Homo sapiens: one gene and its partners. The protein of the gene in region 1 interacts with the protein of each later gene in a biochemical or structural test. Each region holds a gene or a part of one and is shown in the gene's direction. Other genes may lie near its edges.

Evidence for each region.
Region 2: the proteins of MAPK8IP1 (region 1) and ITGB3 form a complex in vitro, tested with the Homo sapiens proteins (one study listed by IntAct).
Region 3: the proteins of MAPK8IP1 (region 1) and LRP2 form a complex in vitro, tested with the Homo sapiens proteins (one study listed by BioGRID).
Region 4: the proteins of MAPK8IP1 (region 1) and LRP1 form a complex in vitro, tested with the Homo sapiens proteins (one study listed by BioGRID).

Annotation. Positions count from the first base shown.
Region 1 is NC_000011.10:45,883,091-45,889,173, forward strand, and holds the start of MAPK8IP1 (C-Jun-amino-terminal kinase-interacting protein 1), read left to right. Parts: upstream 1-2,560; 5' UTR 2,561-2,730; coding exon 2,731-2,831; intron 2,832-6,083. UniProt on the Homo sapiens protein: The JNK-interacting protein (JIP) group of scaffold proteins selectively mediates JNK signaling by aggregating specific components of the MAPK cascade to form a functional JNK signaling module. Required for JNK activation in response to excitotoxic stress.
Region 2 is NC_000017.11:47,284,827-47,289,754, forward strand, and holds part of ITGB3 (integrin beta-3 precursor), read left to right. Parts: intron 1-1,433; coding exon 1,434-1,596; intron 1,597-2,243; coding exon 2,244-2,405; intron 2,406-4,854; coding exon 4,855-4,928. UniProt on the Homo sapiens protein: Integrin alpha-V/beta-3 (ITGAV:ITGB3) is a receptor for cytotactin, fibronectin, laminin, matrix metalloproteinase-2, osteopontin, osteomodulin, prothrombin, thrombospondin, vitronectin and von Willebrand factor.
Region 3 is NC_000002.12:169,354,881-169,360,437, reverse strand, and holds part of LRP2 (low-density lipoprotein receptor-related protein 2 precursor), read left to right. Parts: intron 1-5,557. UniProt on the Homo sapiens protein: Multiligand endocytic receptor. Acts together with CUBN to mediate endocytosis of high-density lipoproteins. Mediates receptor-mediated uptake of polybasic drugs such as aprotinin, aminoglycosides and polymyxin B.
Region 4 is NC_000012.12:57,210,096-57,214,842, forward strand, and holds the end of LRP1 (prolow-density lipoprotein receptor-related protein 1 preproprotein), read left to right. Parts: coding exon 1-74; intron 75-211; coding exon 212-385; intron 386-622; coding exon 623-784; intron 785-1,080; coding exon 1,081-1,255; intron 1,256-1,391; coding exon 1,392-1,493; intron 1,494-1,654; coding exon 1,655-1,719; intron 1,720-1,831; coding exon 1,832-1,922; intron 1,923-2,021; coding exon 2,022-2,166; intron 2,167-2,319; coding exon 2,320-2,460; 3' UTR 2,461-3,266; downstream 3,267-4,747. UniProt on the Homo sapiens protein: Endocytic receptor involved in endocytosis and in phagocytosis of apoptotic cells. Required for early embryonic development. Involved in cellular lipid homeostasis.

The DNA of each region.
Region 1 (6,083 bases):
GTGCCTCAAATCCTGACCCAAGGGCCAGCATGGGGAAGAGATGGTTGCAGGCAAAATGCACTTTATAGAGATTTTCTATTGCTGGGAAGGTGTGTTTCTCCCACAATTTGTTTGTGAATATTCACTTGTTTTATAAATGTCTGACCTGTCTTGAGTAAGTTTGTGCTGTCGTCAATCTTGTGGGAGGCCTGGGAACCAGGGTTTTGGTAAGCCTGAGCCTGAATGAAGCTGTCGGCCACCCCATCTTGGTTCTGTGGGAGTCAGGAGCCTCCTATTCCTCCTTAGGAAGGGGGAGCAGCCAGAGCAGACTGGAGCAGCTTGGTCAAGAGTTGGTCCAGAGCTTGGTCAAGAGTTGGGGGTCAATTGGCCAAAATAGTACAGAGCACTCTGGCCCAGAGTGAGGGTCCTAAGTGCCATCCTGCAGTGCCACCCAGCCTTGCAGCCCACTTAAACCCCCTCCCAGGCTGGGGGTCAGTCAGTGCAGGGCCTGCTCCACGCCCTCAATCCATCCTTTAATTCAATGCAGCCACTTAAGCTGCAGCCTGTGGTGAGGAGGGGATGCAGGCTCTCTGGCTGTGACTAGGTGGTTGAGATCTGCCCACAGCCAAGCCTAGGGCGCCTGGATGCTGGCTTTGTCTCCTGGCCAGAGAATGGCCCCTCTCTGTGCAGTGTGCCCTGCTTCCATGCTAGGGGATGCTAGCCTTGGACTGAAAGCTTTATTAGCTCACACCCCAACTTTCTGGGAAGGGGCCCAGGCAAGGCCCAAGAATATCACAGTCTGGCCTGCACAGAGTGAAGAAGGAGAAAAGGGGAGGAACCTGCCTTGGGAACTTGTCTCATTCTTGGCTCTGCTCTGAAGCTCCTGCTGGCCTCCCTCATACCAAGACCTGGGCCTGCCTTTCCTTCTTGCCCTTCTGGCTTCTCTCTAATAATGGCTTTGGGTTGGTCTTTGGAGCTAAGATAACTTTGCTCTTGAGCAAAAGGTTCTGGAAGAGGGAGTTGTCCTTTACATCCACCCCTGACCTGCTAAGGATGTTCCCTAGCTGAGGCAGGTCTACATTCTAAGGAACGATTAGTAGCCATGATGGCAAGACTGCTTTCCTGAGAGGAAAAGCCAGGCACCATGGCAGCAGATGATTACCGTGAGGGCCCAGTGAAAGGGGCCTGATCACGAAAGCTGAGAAAGTAGTGGCCACCCCTCTGGGCCCCAGGGACAGGGAAAAGAGAAGCAGCCATGACCTTTGGCTCTAGGTATTGGGATATTCTCAGGGCTGGTGGTCGGAGGTTGCCTTCTGCACGGAAGGTGCCTCCAGCTCCTTGCTAGGTGCCGCACTGAAGGAAAGGGGCCAGCATGACTGGTCGGCAGTCCAGATTTGCAAATAGGACTCCACGAGTTGTGGCACAGTTTGCTCTGCACGTTTTCTGCCCTGTGGACAGGGTCTCTAGGGTTCTCTCGAGAGACCAGAGAAGCCAATGAGGTTTGACCAGAGGCTCTACGACCCAGCAAAGCTAAGGCCCTAGCCTTGGCAGTCCGTACTCTGAAATAACTCAATCGGGAAACTCAGGGACTTGAAGGCCTGGAAGCCCAGGAATAACACCCTCTCGAGGGAGAGACAATGAGGAAGAAGCCATGGCCAAAGCCTAGCAGGGATGGAGGTGCCAGAGGGAACAGAAACAACCAAAATGATCCCAAGAAGTCAACAGTGGGAGGAGAGGGAAAGGCGCCAAGTCTTAGAATGTGTGTCTGTGGGTGCAGAAGAGGGGTGCTCTGCAGGAAATGCAGTTGAGGCGCTAAGAAGGAGAATGCTGGGAAGGTCCTGGCGAGAGACCGAGAAGCCTGGAGGGCTCAATTCACCACGAGTAGCTGTTTGGGGCTGAAGAGAGATTTGGGTCAATCTTTAGAGAAGACAGCCTCTAGGGAGAGTCTTTGGGAGGGTCCCCTCAAGGTAAAGGGACAGGACTGGGGTGAGGGCTGGATCCCAGCGCAGGAGGTGGAGTGTTTCTGGGTCTCAGGCAACACATTTGTGTTACGTTACATTCTCACAACAACCATGAGAGGGACTGCTATTGTCCCATTTCACAGATAAGAAGACCAAACCTTAGTGCTCTGAAGTCACTAATGCAAGGCCCCACTGCCCAGTCACTTGTGGAGCCAGTGAATTCACACCACCTGACTCCAAACCTGTACACTTTAAGAGCCCACTGACATCCTCTCCTTTCTCTGCCTTCCTCCACGACCCTCCTTTTCCGCCTGCCTTCTTGGTCTCTGCTGCGGGGGGCCAACCTGGACCTTGGGGTCCAGTGTCCTGCCATTAGTCATCTGATACCCGGGCACTAAGCCCAACCGGAGGGACAAAGCCCACACCGGCCACGGGGTGGAGGAGAGTCGATGTCGGATTTAGGGCGGGGCTGAACCAAGCCCAGGGCCGCGGGGGCCGTGGCTTCAGCACCGCGGAGAGCGCCATCTCCGGGGGCGGGGCTGGCGGGGTGGGGGCGGGGCCTGGGCGGGGCGCGCGAGACCCCGGCCGGGTCCCGGGGGCGCGCGCGGGGCGCTCTCGCCAGTCCCGCGGGCCGTGCGCGGTGCTGTGCCGCGCCCTGCCAGACACAGGTGCGCCCGCCTAGCCCGAACTCCGCGGCGGCGGCTGCCCTCTCGCCGCGCCTCCGCCTCCTTCGCAGCCGCCGCCTCCTCCGCGCCGCGCTCCGCCCGGATGGCCAGGGCTGTGCCCGAGAATGGCGGAGCGAGAAAGCGGCGGCCTGGGAGGGGGGGCCGCGTCCCCGCCCGCCGCCTCCCCGTTCCTGGGGCTGCACATCGCTTCGCCTCCCAATTTCAGGTGAGAGTCCCCGGCCGCCGCGCGCCTCGCCCTTCAGCGGGGACTGATCCGCATTGGCTGCCCTGCCCGCCCCCCACCCCAGAACCTCGGGAACCCGGGAACGAAAGGGCTGCGTGGGAGTGGGGTCTCTTCCCGGGACAGAGCCCCCCTCAGAAGCCCCGCCAGCCTCAAGTCCGGACTGGTAGCCGTTGCATGTTCACGAGGCTGTTCCCTCCGCCATTCCTGGTCCTAGGCTGGGAGGTCTGCGCTGGAATTGGAGGAGGGGGCTCGGAGGCCTCCTTCTCCCCAACCTCCGGGCTGCGGCAGGGTCTGGGGTCGGGGTTGCGATCCCGGAGCGGGCAGGCAGGCTGCATCTTAGCCTGTGAATAGAGCTGGGAACAGCCTGGAGGGGCGCGGGTCGCAGTTTCCTGGGGCAACGACATTGTTGGTGCTGGGAGGAGGATGTTTGAGCCCCTCCCCGAGCCCTGCCTGGCCAGATGGGCCTACCTGCCAGGCCTGGCGTGGCCGGGCCCCTCTCTGGATTGGGCAGCACCGACCTAGGCAGGTGTGTCTCTCAGGGCAGGCGCTGAAGGCTCAGCCTCAACCAGGGGAATCCTAGGCCCGGCTGCGGGAAGGGAAGTCGGCTCGGCTCTGGAGTAGCCAGGGCCAGCGAGGGTGTCGAGGGGATCCCTGCTGGGGTAAATACCCAGAACCCTGACCTGAGCTCCTATTCCACCACCCCCACCCCCCAATCTGGTGTTAGGCCCGATGCATTTCAGAGAAGTGAGGGGTGAGTGTTGTGTGGAGGAGGAATAGATGTACCTCCCCCATAATTCTGAACCCTAGTTGGTGGGGAGGAAGAGGCCGAAGTCACTGCTCCCGGCCTAGAGAGGGAGGCTTAGACATACCCCATTGTTTCCCCATCTCGAGAACTGGCGCCTTCCCCTCTCCTGGGGCACCACCCCAGCCAGGCTCCAGCTGGGCTGTGGTGCCAGCCCCTCCTGGGAGCAAGGGGTCACTGGCTCCCAGGTCCTCAGGTGGGCAGAGACCCCTGGGGATCTCTAATAGCATCATCAAACTCAGAAACCTTCCCTGAGGCCCTGAGCTGAGCTGGAAGGACCAGAGGGGGCCAGATGGAGGAGGCCAGGCCTGAAGGCTCCAGGGCTGCAGCTCTCTGATAATGCCTTAGACTGAGGTCTGAGACTCCACCTGGCATGGTGCATGAGGCCTCCATGCAAATACTGCCTCCCCACCTGGAGGCCTCTGCAGTGGAAGCACATGGGGCTTAGAGGGACCTGGGTTCAAATCCTAGCTCCACTACTTTCTAACTGCATGACCCAGGCAGGTTTTTGTCCTCTCTGGGTGCCATCTGTTAAGTGGGCTAATTAATATTGATTCTTGCCTGGAAAGGAGAAAAAGCACATCAGGTCAGTGTTCAACAAGTGTCAGCCCCCACACTAGCAGACAACACTACGGCTCGCTGCTGTCCAGAGTGTCTTCCCAAGGCCCCTCCTTTAACCCTCATAACTGCCCCAAGAGAGGGTAGTGACCTGCCCATTTTATAGATGAGGTGATTGAGATTAACAAAGGCAGGGTGGCTCATCTGGAGACTACAAAAGAGTCAGAGACTAAGGCTACACTGGGACCCAGGTCTGTGCGTGTTTAGTCCACTCTACGTCCCAGCCCTGCCTCTGGCCCAGTGGGCAGCTTTTCTTCCTCGACCTGCTTCCCCAGGTGTCATAGATGCTTTAATGAGAGGAGCTGAGGAAGCAGACACCAGCCAGTGAATGTGTGGCCAGCTCTGCGGCATGTGGGACAAGGGTGGCAGTAGGCCACGAGGCTGAGGTGTGGGCCAGCACTCCAGAACATGGTGGCCTGGCTGCGGAGACAAGGCCAGTGCGTGGGAATAATAAGCGTCAGTGTCTCAGGCCCTGCCGGCCTGCCCCGCTGCTCCCAAAGCCCCCGCTGCCCTTTCTCCTGGCCCGCCTCTCACTGTGCTTGGCCAGGCTCCACTTAACCCTGGGTGGGTAGATAGTGCTTTCTTGTGGCTCTTTGGTGGAGTCATAGATCCAACTGGCCTGGGTTTGAATCCTGGCTGGCCCTTCTTACCTGTGTGCCCTGACACTGGGCACTTAAGCCCTCTGAGCCTCTGAGATGCCAGCACTGGCCCCTGCTCAGGATGGTCCTAAGAATCAGATGAGATAACACGTGTTGAGTGTTTCAAGGGCTGAGGAGAGCCGCCTGTAGGCAGGGCTGTGTGTGTGCACACACACACAGGCGCCTTGACCCCCAGTGCCACTGTCAGCTCCCAGAAAATAAAGGGGGTCTGTACCCAAACTTTGGTATCCCCATTGCTCAGCACGGGATAGTTACTCAATAACAGTGGTAAGCGCTGACATTTGGAAGGCACTCAGTTCGCCCAGGCACCATTCTAAGAGTTTCCTATGTGCAAGAGTATTTACTCCTCCCAATAACTGTATCAACAGAGCGTTGTTATTATCCACACTTGCATGAAGAAACTGAGGCAGAGGGAGGTTAGGTAAGTGGCAGAGCTTGTAAGTGGCAGGCAGTCTGATGTCAGAGCCACCCCAAAAAGAAAGAGCCCTAGAGTATTGGAAGAGCATGTGCGGAGGGGGCGAGCATGTGGACCTGACCTGAAGGGGTGGGAGCATTCGTTTGTTTGTGGTAGGTTAAATACGTGTTAATTTTTGTTCTGATTATAGCTCCAGCTGTTTATAGTGGTTGGTTACCTTTGGGTATGGTATGGGGTGAGGGATTTTTACTTCTTATTTTACATACTTTTTTTTTTTGAGACAGAGTCTCACTCTGTCGCCCAGGCTGGAGGTTGGAGTGCAGTGGCATGATCTAAGCTCACTGCAACCTCTGTATTCTGGGTTCAAGCGGTTCTCCTGCCTCAGCTTCCCAAGTAGCTGGGATTACAGGTGCCCACCACCACGCCCGGCTAATTTTTGTATTTTTAGTAGAGACGGGGTTTCAACATGTTGGCCAGGCTGGTCTTGAACTCCTGACCTCAGGTGATCCACCCATCTCAGCCTCCCAAAGTGCTGGAATTACAGGCTCGAGCCACCACGCCCAGTGTCATACTTTTATATTACAGGTTGAGTATGCCTGATCTGACATGCTTTGGACCAGAAGTGTTTCAGATTTCTAATTTTTTTGGATTTTGGAATATTTGCATATGCATAACGAAATAGCTTGGGGATGGGAACCCAAGTCTAAAAATGAAATTGATTTTTTCTTATATATCTTATA
Region 2 (4,928 bases), on another chromosome or scaffold:
GTCTCCCTGTTTGGCAAATGGGCTAGCTTGTGGATCTGGAGTGTTGTGTCAATGGAGCCTAAGGCTGTTTGGAGAACCTAGAAAGAAAATTCATCAGCTTCTCAGTCTTGGTAACAAATAAATAGAAGGCAAGAGAGAATGGGAGGGAAATGACGTCAAAAGTAGAAAGAAATTTATGGATAAGGAAACCGAGAAATTACGATTACAGAAGGATCGATTCCATTGTTGGCATTATTGTCTTCATCAAGGCCGTGCATCCTGCAGGGTGAAAACAGAAGAAATGAAGTGCTAAGGAATATAAAAGAGTGGAAATGACATTTGTTGGACACTTTTATAGTCTGTAAATGGATAACTTGTGCCTCTGTTTGACACTTTGGCTTAAAACTGAATGGCTTATTTATTTAATCGGTGGAGACTGTGCAAATCCATGTATTAGAATAACTTACAATGCTGGTTGCTGAGCCTGAAAAGGTGTGAATTTACTTTTTAGTTTTCAAAGTTACGGCCAGGTGGGGTGACTCACTTCTGTAATCCCAGCACTTTGGGAGGCCAAGATGGGAGGATCACTTGAGCCTAGGAGTTTGAGTTCAGCCTAGGCAACATAGTGAGACCCCCATCTCTACAAAAATTACAAAAAAATTAGCTATGTGTGATGGCGCATGCCTGCAGTCCCCAGGACTACAGGGAGGCTGAGGTGGGAGGATTGATTGAGCCTGGGAGGTTGAGGCTGCAGTGAGCCATGATTGTGCCACTGCACTCCAACCTGGACAATGGAGCACAACTGTCTCTAAAAAAAAAAGAAAAAGTTTTGAAGTTATATGATGTGGCATTCAACCTTCTATCTGGGTTGTAAGGTTCCCAGGCAAGACATCAGCTATTAATTAAACACACTATTTTGACTGGGGGCAGAAATGCTCCTGTCTTGCATGATCTATCAATTTATTGATGGTTCAGGGACCTTAACTTACTGATGGACTTTTGCTTTATTGTTACTTTAGGAAAGTGTTAAGTATAAGGTGATAGTAATAGCAACTCGAGCCTCGCTCTGGTCTAAGTGCTTTGTGTGTATGAACTTACTTAAGTCTCACAACTCTTATGGGATATGTGCTATCCTGGCCCCTCTTTCATAGGTTGGATTGAGAGGCTTGCCAAAGGTCCCATGACTAGTACAGAGGGCACCTGGGATCTAAGCTCAGGGAGTCTTGTTTCCAGCTCAATCTCTTATCTTCTAGGTTAGCTGGATGGGGGTAATGTTGATGGGGAGCTTCAGATAATTTGAGGATTTTGGAGTCTGAACTGTCTGGGTAACTGTGGTTGTATGGAACTGGCCTTGGCATACCACTATCTATATTTGTCCCCTCTCTTTCCTCCCAATTCCCATGCTGCCTTTTCCATGAAGGTGTCTGCTTAAATTATCTCCCATCCCTCCCCAGTATGAAGACCACCTGCTTGCCCATGTTTGGCTACAAACACGTGCTGACGCTAACTGACCAGGTGACCCGCTTCAATGAGGAAGTGAAGAAGCAGAGTGTGTCACGGAACCGAGATGCCCCAGAGGGTGGCTTTGATGCCATCATGCAGGCTACAGTCTGTGATGTGAGTTTGGAGGACTTGGAGTGCCAGGTGTGGCTGGCATAGATCAAAATGGGAAAGGAAGTGACTGAACTCTGGGGATTTCTGGTGTAAAATGAGATGAGAACTAAGCAGGGCTTCCTGCAGTTATGAGTAGTAAGTTGCTCCTGATATTCAGCCTTGGCTTAGATCCACTCCCTGGCCTGAGCTGACATTTCTTTGAACCTCAGTGGTCTCAGATGTTCCCAGGGGAGAGCATCTTCCCATCTTCAGAGTTACTTCAGAGTTAAGGCTGAGTTAACTTAACCTCAGCAAAGTAGGCAGATGTTCAGATGAGATTTCTTCTAGCCCAGATCAGCTCTGTGGATGCACGTCAGTTTCTAGATGAGCAATGTGACTGTCATTAGAAGAGTTAAGTTTGGAGTTTAAGAAGATCTCATTCAGCTGCTTGAACTAATCAGCTATGAGACTGTTTTCTGAAGAGAATGAAACTCCTGAACTGGAAAGCTTCAGCTTCGGTTCCAAGGACTGGGACTGAGACCCTTGTTTTGAAGAAAAATAAGCTGTCCAGCCCTTTAGCCAGGGAGCACCTTGGGTCTCTGTTCTCTACCAGTGACATGGCTGAATTTGTTTTGTCTCCTCTGCCTTTGTTTTTTGTTTTCTTTTAACAGGAAAAGATTGGCTGGAGGAATGATGCATCCCACTTGCTGGTGTTTACCACTGATGCCAAGACTCATATAGCATTGGACGGAAGGCTGGCAGGCATTGTCCAGCCTAATGACGGGCAGTGTCATGTTGGTAGTGACAATCATTACTCTGCCTCCACTACCATGGTGAGATCTCTGGCACCACCTATGGTTTCTATTCATGATTGTGAGGGTTGCCCTAATCTAGGCAGAGTCTGTGTGAATATGAAAATGGCAGCCCCTCCTTCTGGGCAGGGTGCAGGGCTCGGTTCCAGCTTGCCCCTATCCCTTACCAACTGGACACCGTCATCCAGCATACAACCTATATAACCATTAGAGATGTCCCTGATTGTGGTGTTATCACTGCCTTCACTGTCACCAGCATAGCAGCAGCATCATGGGATCCAGAATGGACCCAAAGGATTTTTACAACCCAGCTGGAAAGCAGGTCTTCCTCTCCACTCTGATTAGCCCTTTCTTGGAATACCATACTAACTTGTGGTTATTGGAAGAAGACAGAGGAAAAAAAAGAGAAAGATTGGCCAGGCATATGATGGCTCATGCCTGTAATCTCAGCACTTTGGGAGGCTGAGGTGGGAGGATCACGTGAGTCCAGGAGTTTGAAACCAGCTTGGGAAATATAGTGAGACCCTGCCTCTACAAGAAAATGCAAAAATTCGTTGAGTGTTGTGGTTTGTGCCTATGGTCCCAGCTACTTGTGGGGCTGAGGCAGAAAGATCTCTTGAGCCCAGTAGTCTGAGGCTGCAGTGAGCTGTGATCTTGCCACTACACTCCAGCCTGAGTGACAGAGCAAGAACCACCCCTGCTTTTTTTTTTTTTTTTTTTTTTTTTTTTTTTTGATACAGAGTCTTGCTTTGTTGCCCAGCTGGAGTGCAGTAGTGCAATCTTGGCTCACAAGCTTCACCACCTCAGTCTCCTGAATAGCTGGGACCACAGGCATGCACTACCATGCCCAGCTAATTTTTGAAAACAGGGTCTTTCTATGTTGCCCAGGCTGGTCTCAAACTCCTTGGCTTAAGCAATCTGCCCTCTTAAGCCTCCCAAAGTGCTGGGATTACAGGTGTGAGCCATTGCTCCTAGTGGAGACCCCTTCTCTTAGAAAGAGAGAGAGAGAGAGAGAGAGAGAGAGAGAGAGAAAGAGGGGAAAGAACATAAAAGGCATGGTGAACAGGTCCTACGAGGAAAGATTAAAGGGCCAGAGTCATTTAGCTTGAAAGAAAGAAGGCTAAAGGATGATTTAGCTTATACATGAGAAAACTTCTTATAAGTTGTTTTATATGGCCATAGAAGGTTAAACAAGAGGAAAATATTTAAATTGAATCAGGAGAAATTACTATAAGCCATAAGAGAAATGTGCTGTAATGCTCTAGGTATCTGGGGCAGGTGTGAACTCTTCGTCTCCTAAGGACAATATAGCAACTTCCTCATCTAGGTGACTTAAAGGTGTACCTGTGTAAAGGCAGGAGACTGAGCTGAGGATCTAATGAGCTCCCTGCAAGGTCTAGGATCCCATGGACATGTTCACGATTCACCACCGCCCCCGCACAGTGTCCTTGAGTTCCTTGGTGTCAGCCATATCCAAGTCAAGCACTACCAGACAATGAGTCAGCAACATTTGACCCCTAATCTATGCAAGGCACTGGGCCAGGGGCTGAGGGAGGTAACAAGACTATGTATGGTTCTATCCTTGGGGAGTTTTTGGTCTACTTGAGGAGAAAGGATATATATATTTACAATAACACAAGATGCATGATTAGTGCCAAATGGGTGTGGCACAGCCAATGTGGCTATACGTATCCAAGGGAGGAAAGGTCATCATGAGCTGGGATGGCCAAGGAAGTCTCCTGAAGAAGGTGGGGGCTAAGCTAGGCCCTAAGAAAGGAGGAGGATTACCAACAAGAAGGCCACTCCAGGTGGGAGACAGTGGGCCAGATCACTGCTGAGTGGAAGAGGGAGAGAGGTGAGCAATATTTGGAAAGAAAGACTGAGACCACACGGTGGAGGATCACGAGGGCCAGGCCAAGGCATTTGTCAGTAGTTCCAAAACAGAGGCCTAACCCAGTCCCTTGTGCACGGAAGCAGCTCCATAGTATTAGTGCATTAAATTCAAGCAGGAAGAAAGAGGTGCTTAGTTTTGACACCACTGGCCTGTACCTCTTCGTCTATCCCTGGAGTTCACAAGTAGACTTCTGTGCTACTTACCCTTCTTATCTCACTGTCACCCCCCTTTTTTTTTTAGAGACAGAGTCTTGCTCTGCTGCCCAGGCTGGAGTGCAGTGGTGCAATCATAGCTCACTGTAACCTCCAACTCCTGGGCTGAAGTGATCCTGCCTCAGCCTCCCCAGTAGCTAGGACTATAGGCACTTACCACCACATCTGGCAAATAAAAAAAATTTTTTTGTAGAGATGGGGTCTTGCTATGTTGCCCAGGCTCTTGTCTCACTTTCAGCATGAAGTGAAATGGTTTAAGCACCACCACACTCTGAGCCACAGCCCAAGCAAGATAAGTTCTAAGCTTTAGACCCTAGAGATGTACATGAGACGTCATTAACCTCTACATCCTTCATTTTCCTAGGATTATCCCTCTTTGGGGCTGATGACTGAGAAGCTATCCCAGAAAAACATCAATTTGATCTTTGCAGTGACTGA
Region 3 (5,557 bases), on another chromosome or scaffold:
AATATATAATAATAATGTGTATAGTAATAGTAACCTAGCATACACATATATGTGGCAGGCTTTGTTCTAAGCACTTTATACTTATTGACTCAATTAATCTTCATAATATCCCTTGGAAGTAAGTACTCTTATTATCACTGTTTTACAGATGAGAAAGTGGAGGCACAGAACAATTCAGTAATTTGTCTCAGTTCATACTGCTAGAAAATGGCAAACTCAAGGGATTCTGAATTCAGAGTCTATAATTGCTACAGTATACAGTGTCTGGTTTTCTCTCTCTCTCTCTCTCTTTTTTTTTTTTTTTTTTTTGAGAGAGACAGAATCTCGCTCTGTCACCCAGGCTGGAGTGCAGTGGTGCAATCTCGGCTCACTGCAACCTCTGCCTCCCAGGTTCAAGCGATCCTCACACCTCAGCCTCCCAAGTAGCTGGGACTACAAGCCCGGGGCACCATGCCCAGCTAATATTTTGTATTTTTAGTAGAGGCAGGGTTTTGCTATGTTGGCCAGGCCAGTCTTGAACTCCTGACCTCAAGTGATCTGCCCGCCTAGGCCTCCCAAAGTGCTAGGATTACAGGTGTGAGCCACTGCACCTGGCCCGATTTCTCTTTTTTCTTTTGTACAAAAAATGTCATGCTCCCTAACTTACTGTCCATGTTTGAGGTTCCCAAAGAAGCTGAGGGGCAATATGCAACTCGTACCACCTGCTGCTTCATAACTGTGGATCTTTTTCCAGAATCTCTCCTCAGGTTTCTAAGACCAGAACCCAAGTCTCCCCATTCCCAGTCTTCCTACTTGATCATTTTAAGACGCATTTCCTCTGAATGTCCTCTGCCTGATACGTTGAGATTTCTAGAATCCTGTTGTAATGATCCTGACTTAATATATGAAGTAAAATCCAATGAGATTGTAACAGCCTTTATTTAAGCACTACCTTTTAGGTAGGCTACCATTGCAAACTTCGCATCACTAAAAATTGGAGGGGAAAAAAAAGAGCTCTGAGTATTCTATGTTTAGTCTTTGAAAAAAATTATACCACATCTGTTGTTAAAAATTATTTGCATTTTCCTTATCTTTTGTGTAATGCTTTTCAAGAAAAAACATTTTGCAGAGTCTGAACTCGAGTCAAGCTGTTGGGTTCCAACATTGGCTTTACCACTTTCTAGCTGTGTGACCTTGGGAAAGTCAACCAACTTTGCATAGCTCAGATGGCTTATCTGCAAAATTGACAAGATAATAAGAGAATTTACCCAATGACATCTTGTAAGCATAAAGAGATAAAATATGCCAAGTGCTTAGCATGGTGTAAAGCATATAGACAGTGAAAATAAACTAGAAAATAATCTAAAAATACAATATTTTTATTATATTTATCAACCCTTAAAGTAACATATTGTTTTGCTTCCTATTCCTATTTCCATTTCCAATTTTCAAATATACAAAGGAAAGTCTTCTTTAAGCATTTTTCACTAACAGTTCTCTGAAGACTTCTCAGACCCTAGCATGTGATTGGAAGATTTTTTCTTTTTTTTTTTTTTTTTTGAGAAAATCGTATTGGCCTTAAACAAAGTTGTATTCTGTTTACTAATTAAAAAAACTTATTTTTCAAAAATAGAAATGGGGTCTCACTGTGTTGCCCAGGCTGGTCTTGAACTCTTGGCCTCAAATGATCCTCCTACCTCTGCTTCCCAAAGTGCTGACATTATAGGCAGGAGCCACCTTACCTGGTCCAACATTATATTCTTTAATCCAATAAAAATGTGGTAATGTTTTTAAGAGTTAGTATCAGCTTTTATGACAATTACATCTTCACATGAAGTTTATATGTTTAAAAGGATTGTGGGGGCAATAGCAAACTTGTATCGTTTTTATTCCATCACAACTCTGGAACCTCACTGCTGCTTTAATTTCACAGTTGTTGGCTTCTCTTTCTCTACTTGAAAAAGTTTCTCTTTACCAGTCTTCATAAGACTTCTGCCTGAACTCCCTTCAGTCATGCACCTGTCTCATTTTAATAGAAACTCAGACTTTTTACAGCTAGAGGGAACCTTAGATATCAACTGGTCTGCTTGCATTTTTTTTTTCTTACAGATAAGCAATTAGCCCAGGAGGGAGAAGAAAGGGGCTGAGAGGATGAAAGGGAAGGCGGTTAATAGGTTTCTTGCCTAAGGACATCTAGCCTGTGACAGAGCTAAGATATAAATTTGCAGTGGACCATTTTTTAGATTCATGCCTTCTGAATGTCCCCAGCCTGTTTGGTTGGTTGAGATTTCTAGATTCCTTTTGGAATCCTGACTTGCCAGATAAGGCACAGTCTGATAAGCAGATGAATCTTAAAAACAATTGGATGGGTTACCTGTCCCTGGCCAAAGAGGAATCCTGTGATAGGTTATTACAACCATGTACCATGCGCTTTCAGCTTGGTCCAGAACTGATGCCATGTCAGTGCCCCTACTCCCAAAGACCATACCTCCAGATCCATTTTTCAAATTCTTGAGCCATCAAAGCGCATTCCTGAAGATCTTTGGGTTTTGTAGTGCAGGCTGCTGTAAGACTAGGTTTTCAGTCTTACTAAAGGTAATTATTAGGTCATAATCATTGTTCATGTTCTCTAGTCAGGCACTGTAAGAACACTGAAAGGTTTTTAAAATATTTAAATTAAAATTTTAAATTATCATTTAAAAATAATGATACCAGGAACCTAGATGTATTTCCTGTGTAATCAGAAGCAAGTGCATTGTCATATTGGCTTTGGAGTTTCTGTTAAGTCCTAGTAGCTAGAACAAGGTAAGTAGAAAGTAGAAGGTGCTGAGCTGGGCGTGGGGGCTCATGCCTGTAATCCCAGCACTTTGGGATGCTGAGGCGGGAGGATCATGAGGTCAGGAGATCGAGACCTGCCTGGCCAACATGGTGAAACCCTGTTTCTATTTAAAACACAAAAATTAGCTGGGCGTGGTGACGCACACCTGTAATCCCAGCTACTCGGGAGGCTGAGGCAGGAGAACTGCTTGAACACAGGAGGCAGGGATTGCAGTGAGCTGAGATTGTGCCACTGCACTCCAGCCTGGGTGACAGAGCAAGAATCTGTCTCAAAAATAAAATAAAATAAAATAAAATAAAATAAAATAAAATAAAATAAAATAAAATAAAAATAAATAAAAAAGAAAAAAAAAAGAAAAGAAAGTAGAAGGTGCTTATGAAAGAGTGTTGAATGGATAGGAAAGGGGTTCTCAAGGTTGACTGCACGAATCTAGAGCAACTAAAAAAATACTAATTGTGAAGCCCTATTCTAGCATGGAAAAAATAAGCTTGATGGAACCTTTGGTATAAATCAAATGGTTCTATCGTATCCTATTAACTTTATAGTCTTGAGTAATTAAAAATTTTTACCACTATTGTGTATTCTGTGAATGTTTATTTTATTTTTTCCATGAATATTTATTAAATATCAACAGTGTGCTGATGAGTCAATAGTATCAATACTACAGAAACATTAAGGAAGATGAGAACTGAAAAGAGGTGTCTACATATCTCGCAATTAAAATGGACTGCAGTTTTGCATTTAAGATTCTGAAATAGTCATTGACTCATTCCTAATAACCCTGCCCAGGATCTCACCAGCATTAGAAAGATTGGAGATGTTTCAGCATCCGAGTTCTGGGATGCTTCTTGATAATGATCAGCTAGTAGTTGTTTTGAAATGTCAAGAGCATTTCTGTGGTTCTTCACATGTTCCTAATGCAAATGTTTCCGAAGTAATTTCTTGACAGTTACAGTGTTTTGAGATGAAGTGGGAAGGGCTTGTGATTTTGAAGTTGGAGGATCTTGGTTTGATTCCTACCTCTGCCATTTATTATCTGGGAAATCCAGTACCACACATGCTGGGTGCTCTGGGGCAGTTTTCTTATCTGTAAAATGGACATATATCTACCTCACGGGGTGGTTATGCAAAGGCAATGAATGTGAAATGTTTAATAAACTGTGAAGTCTCATATAGATTTCCATTCATCATTATTACCCAATACGAGAATTTTACTTTTTCCAAACTTGAGAGGAGGAAGATGTTGCAGTATTTTGGTATCTTCTTTACCGTGGGTCTGAGAATGATGCACCTGTGCATGTTGTTACATCCTTACAGTGGCTACCACAACTTCACATGTTATTCAGTACTGTTATGTTGGTGAATGTCACAAAACTAAGTTAAACTGTCTGAGGCAAAAAAGGAAGGTTATTGAAATACATAGTTGAGGCTGGGTGTGGTGGCTCATGCCTATAAATCTCAGCACTTTGGGAGTCTGAGGTGAGCGGATTGCTTGAGCCTAGGAGTTTGAGACCAGCCTGGGCAACATAGTGAGACTCCATCTCTACAAAAAATACAAAAAATTAGCCAGGAATGGTGGTGTGCCCTTGTGGTCCCAGCTACTTGGGAGGCTGAGGTGAGATGATCGCTTGAGCCCAGGAGGTCGAGGCTACAGTGAGCTGTGATCATGCCACTGCACTCCAGCCTCAGCGACAGAGTGAGACCCTGTCTCAAAGAAAATAAATACATAGTTGAAAAGATACAGATAATTAGGTTGATCCATTTGAGATTGATTTTTTTTCCTATGCAGAAATAGTCAAATATTGGCAATTTCATTTGGTTCAACCTAATATAAAATGGAGGCTCAAACTATGTCAGGCCAATCTTGTCTTTTTTCCGTCTCCTGGCTCTGAGATGACTCCATTCTTAAACATGTTCTCCTTTGATGTAAAGCGGCTGTCAGTGGCTCTGGAGCCACCTCCTATCAGATCACATCCACTGGGAAAGAAAAAGAGTTTTTATCTTAGCTATTCCCAGCAAAAGTTTCAGTTGCATCTCAGGGTCTCTACTTAGGTCATAAACTCATTGGAGAACCAACCACTGAATCCCGGGTCATGATGTGTTCCCATGGCTTAGGCTTGGGCTGTATACTCAGTCTTTGAGATCATGTATGAAGGGGTGGAGTCCAGAGAGAAATGGGGGTAATTATTGGGAGAATGGTGAACAGAGGCTGGGATGCAAAAATAACAGGTGTTCAGTATACCTTATCAGATAAAATTGACTGACGATGTTATTTTCATTTTGTATGTGAAGACACACTTGAAAAAGCTACAGAAATTTCTCAAGAGCTGGCAGCCCTGGGGTAACTTACAGAATTGAAAGGAATAAAGTATTGGAAACATTAAGAAAAAAGACATGGTGATCTGTGCCCATGTGACCATGTTGCAACTTTAAGTTTAGAAGGAGAACAGGAGAAAGAAGGACTTTTAGAAGGTTTATTTGGATCCTAAAGTTTTCTTATTTGGAGCAGAGCTTTGTGATAGACAGGAAAGTTCTGGAAAATGAGCTGAGCGATCAGACTACAGGATCCCTTAAGTCTGGTGCAGTATTTCATTTTTCTGTGAATCTTAGGCTCCTACTCCTTTTCCAATTTACTTCACTCCAATGTTTATGTTCCTAAGAGTTTGTCTGTTTTCCAAGCACTAGTCCTTTGCTATAAGGATGGGGTAGAGAGAAAGAAGCTTAAAGAGTTTGCAGACA
Region 4 (4,747 bases), on another chromosome or scaffold:
CACCTGTCCCAATGGGAAGCGGCTGGACAACGGCACATGCGTGCCTGTGCCCTCTCCAACGCCCCCCCCAGATGGTATGCTTATGCCCTCCCAGTCCCAGCCATGCCTCAGGACCATCTCCTTCCTGTGGCTCCTGACTTCCCCTGACCTTGTTGCCTGTCCCTCTCCTCCTATTCCCCTGGCTCTGCCCCTTGACGGGCCCTTCCTGCAGCTCCCCGGCCTGGAACCTGTAACCTGCAGTGCTTCAACGGTGGCAGCTGTTTCCTCAATGCACGGAGGCAGCCCAAGTGCCGCTGCCAACCCCGCTACACGGGTGACAAGTGTGAACTGGACCAGTGCTGGGAGCACTGTCGCAATGGGGGCACCTGTGCTGCCTCCCCCTCTGGTATGCCCCCTCATCCCGCCACGCCTGCTCCTTGCCCCTGGGCCCCAGCCCCGCCACCCACCACCCCACCTCAGGCAAATGCCCAGCCCCTGCCTCGCCTCCAGCCTCCTTTCCACAACCCAGCATCCAGTCACTCCAGTCTCTGCTTCTCGCCCAGGTCCCCCCAGCCCATTCCTCTGCTATAGGGCCAGGTGGTCTCGAGGGCCACAGTCGCGCTCACACATCCTCTCCCACCAGGCATGCCCACGTGCCGGTGCCCCACGGGCTTCACGGGCCCCAAATGCACCCAGCAGGTGTGTGCGGGCTACTGTGCCAACAACAGCACCTGCACTGTCAACCAGGGCAACCAGCCCCAGTGCCGATGCCTACCCGGCTTCCTGGGCGACCGCTGCCAGTACCGTGAGTGAGCCATCCCTGGGCCCCAGGGCATGCGGGAGGGTGACGGGGGACCCCAGAGCATGGGGTGATGTTCAACCTGTGCCTGGGACCCACAGGGGCAAGTTCAGGAAAGAAGGCCTTATGCAGCTGAGCCAGGCCCAAGCTGCTGGCGCTTCCCCACAAAGGTGCTGGCACACTTCCCCTGAGGCAGTGCACCCCCTGCACCAAGATTATGCAAACAGAAAAGCTCTGTTCAACCTATGGAGAGCCCTCATGAGGGTGGGGCTTGAGGCACTTCTCTCCCTCCCCAACCACAGGGCAGTGCTCTGGCTACTGTGAGAACTTTGGCACATGCCAGATGGCTGCTGATGGCTCCCGACAATGCCGCTGCACTGCCTACTTTGAGGGATCGAGGTGTGAGGTGAACAAGTGCAGCCGCTGTCTCGAAGGGGCCTGTGTGGTCAACAAGCAGAGTGGGGATGTCACCTGCAAGTGAGTGGGGCCCTCCTCCACAGTTCCACCCAGCTGGGCCCCTGCCCTGTCCTAGCCCTGCCCTGCCCCTCCCTTCCTCAGCATCCCAGGCACGCCTCTGCCAGCCCCAGCCCCAGCCTCTGATTCCTTCCTGCAGCTGCACGGATGGCCGGGTGGCCCCCAGCTGTCTGACCTGCGTCGGCCACTGCAGCAATGGCGGCTCCTGTACCATGAACAGCAAAATGATGCCTGAGTGCCAGTGAGTTGGGCCCGGGCTTCACCCAGGCATAGATCATCGCTCCCTTCCCCAGATTTGAGCAGGAGGACCGTCAGGCCTCAGTGCCCACCCCCCGCCCTGTTTTCCTGGCAGCAGTGGCTATGGAGGTTATACCTACTCAGCCGTGTCCCTCCTTTCTGCAGGTGCCCACCCCACATGACAGGGCCCCGGTGTGAGGAGCACGTCTTCAGCCAGCAGCAGCCAGGACGTAGGTGGCAGGGGTTGGGGCAGGCAGGGCCACCGGGACCTAGAGCAGGGGGACCGTGTGCCTCCTGCTTCCCTGAGCCTTGGTGACTCAGTGTCCCACCTCTTCCCTCCAGATATAGCCTCCATCCTAATCCCTCTGCTGTTGCTGCTGCTGCTGGTTCTGGTGGCCGGAGTGGTATTCTGGTATAAGCGGCGAGTCCAAGGGTGAGTCACAGGGATTCTGGAACATTCTGGTCATTATTTTGCCATCCTAGCCTTCCCCCCCAATAATCTCTGTCTCCTTATACTCCTGCCTTTCCCCAGGGCTAAGGGCTTCCAGCACCAACGGATGACCAACGGGGCCATGAACGTGGAGATTGGAAACCCCACCTACAAGATGTACGAAGGCGGAGAGCCTGATGATGTGGGAGGCCTACTGGACGCTGACTTTGCCCTGGACCCTGACAAGGTGGGCTGGGAGGCGGGCAGGGTCGAGTGCCAAGAGGCCGTGGGTGGCCTAACCAAAGGTGTTGGGTTAGGTGAGGGACGGAGGTGGGGGTGGGGTAACCTGGGCTACAGGCCCAGCTCCTGAGCCCTACCTGAACCCTCTGTCACCCTGCAGCCCACCAACTTCACCAACCCCGTGTATGCCACACTCTACATGGGGGGCCATGGCAGTCGCCACTCCCTGGCCAGCACGGACGAGAAGCGAGAACTCCTGGGCCGGGGCCCTGAGGACGAGATAGGGGACCCCTTGGCATAGGGCCCTGCCCCGTCGGACTGCCCCCAGAAAGCCTCCTGCCCCCTGCCAGTGAAGTCCTTCAGTGAGCCCCTCCCCAGCCAGCCCTTCCCTGGCCCCGCCGGATGTATAAATGTAAAAATGAAGGAATTACATTTTATATGTGAGCGAGCAAGCCGGCAAGCGAGCACAGTATTATTTCTCCATCCCCTCCCTGCCTGCTCCTTGGCACCCCCATGCTGCCTTCAGGGAGACAGGCAGGGAGGGCTTGGGGCTGCACCTCCTACCCTCCCACCAGAACGCACCCCACTGGGAGAGCTGGTGGTGCAGCCTTCCCCTCCCTGTATAAGACACTTTGCCAAGGCTCTCCCCTCTCGCCCCATCCCTGCTTGCCCGCTCCCACAGCTTCCTGAGGGCTAATTCTGGGAAGGGAGAGTTCTTTGCTGCCCCTGTCTGGAAGACGTGGCTCTGGGTGAGGTAGGCGGGAAAGGATGGAGTGTTTTAGTTCTTGGGGGAGGCCACCCCAAACCCCAGCCCCAACTCCAGGGGCACCTATGAGATGGCCATGCTCAACCCCCCTCCCAGACAGGCCCTCCCTGTCTCCAGGGCCCCCACCGAGGTTCCCAGGGCTGGAGACTTCCTCTGGTAAACATTCCTCCAGCCTCCCCTCCCCTGGGGACGCCAAGGAGGTGGGCCACACCCAGGAAGGGAAAGCGGGCAGCCCCGTTTTGGGGACGTGAACGTTTTAATAATTTTTGCTGAATTCCTTTACAACTAAATAACACAGATATTGTTATAAATAAAATTGTAAAAAAAAAAAAAAAAAAAAAGGCCAAAAAAAAAAAAAAGAAAGAAAAAAAGCCGCTGGTGTCTGCCTGTGTGTGAGAGACGCTGGGAGCTGGGGCTGCGCTTTCCTGCTTCGGCCACCAGAGGGAGACCTGCCCCGTGCTGGAGGCAGGCTGGCGCGTGGTTTTTAGTGCCCTTCTCCCAGGGCCCTCCCCCTCTCCATCTTACTGTGCCCGGGAAGCGGGTGGCACTGGACTTGACATGGAAGATCTGCTTCTCCTGGCTGTGTGACCTTCAGCCATGACTTCGAGTCTCCAGATTTTGTGTTCCCTCTGGGTCTAGGACACTAACTCAGATCTGTTTCTCTGCATTCACTTCTACCAGACACCACCCCCCTACCCAAAATGATCACCCACAGTGAGAAGCCCCACTATAAGAAGTGAATACACTGAGGCTGCAAAGGTTTTCTCATCCTTCAGGGTCCTCCCATGCGGTTCTCTCTGCCTGAGTCTGCTCTTGAAGCACTGACGTCTCACTTTGTGGAGACTAATGAATCAAATGCGAAGTAAAATGCTGCATTCCAGAGCCAGGTGTCTCCTGCGGTAAAGGAGAGCTGGGAAGACCAGTTTGCCAGGCCCTCTAGGCCCCCAGCAGCTCCAGCTCACCAATCATTTCAGTCATTCCAGGGGGTAACAGGAAAAAACTGTCAATCAAAAGTGTCCAGGTCCATTTCAACCCCTGCCTAGAGGGGGAAACTTCTTGCAGAAAGTTGCACAGTTTACACTGCCCAGGACTAGAGAGGGTTTGAGTCCCAGTACAGCAAATATGAGCTCAGGAAGGGTGGCTGCAAATGTCTGAAGATCCCTTACCCAACTCCCAACCAGGAAGTGCTGCCTTTCATTCCTCCTCCCTCACTGGTTCAACTCCAGGAGATTCCTCCCAGGCTTCCTTCTGCCTTGGGGAAGCTACAAGTCTAGGCACCTGTGGAAAGAGGAGCCCTCCCCTTCCCTTCTTAGCCTTCAGAAGCTCTCTCCAACCTCATCCTCCAAGCCAACTCTGAGATCCTCCCCTGCCTTCAAAAGGGCCCTGGATGGGCAACTGCGGGGAAACAGAATCCGTGGTTGCCGAGTAGGAGGTCTGTGTCCCAATCTGGCCACCAGGTGGTGTCTGTACGCCTGGAGCACCGCCTATCCTGAAGCCCCACACAGCCCCCGCCTCAGCACTCATTATGCACCTGCGGGGGACCCCAGCCCAGTCTCTCGCTTCCTTCTCTCCGGCTATTTTGCCACACCCCTCCACCCTCTGCCAGCCAGCTCCCCTCCCTGCCCCAGCGCCTGCCTGCTCCCACCACCACCAGCCCCAACCCTGCCCCTCTGCCATCGGTGCATCTGGTGCCCCCCGGGAGCCACTGATCTCTGCCTGTCACCTCAAGATCCTGGGCAGAGCGACAAGGGACCCCCGCTGCAGCTTGGAAGGCATACCCCTCCAGTCAGCATCCCCCACTCCGCCTGTCAGGACCTGCTAG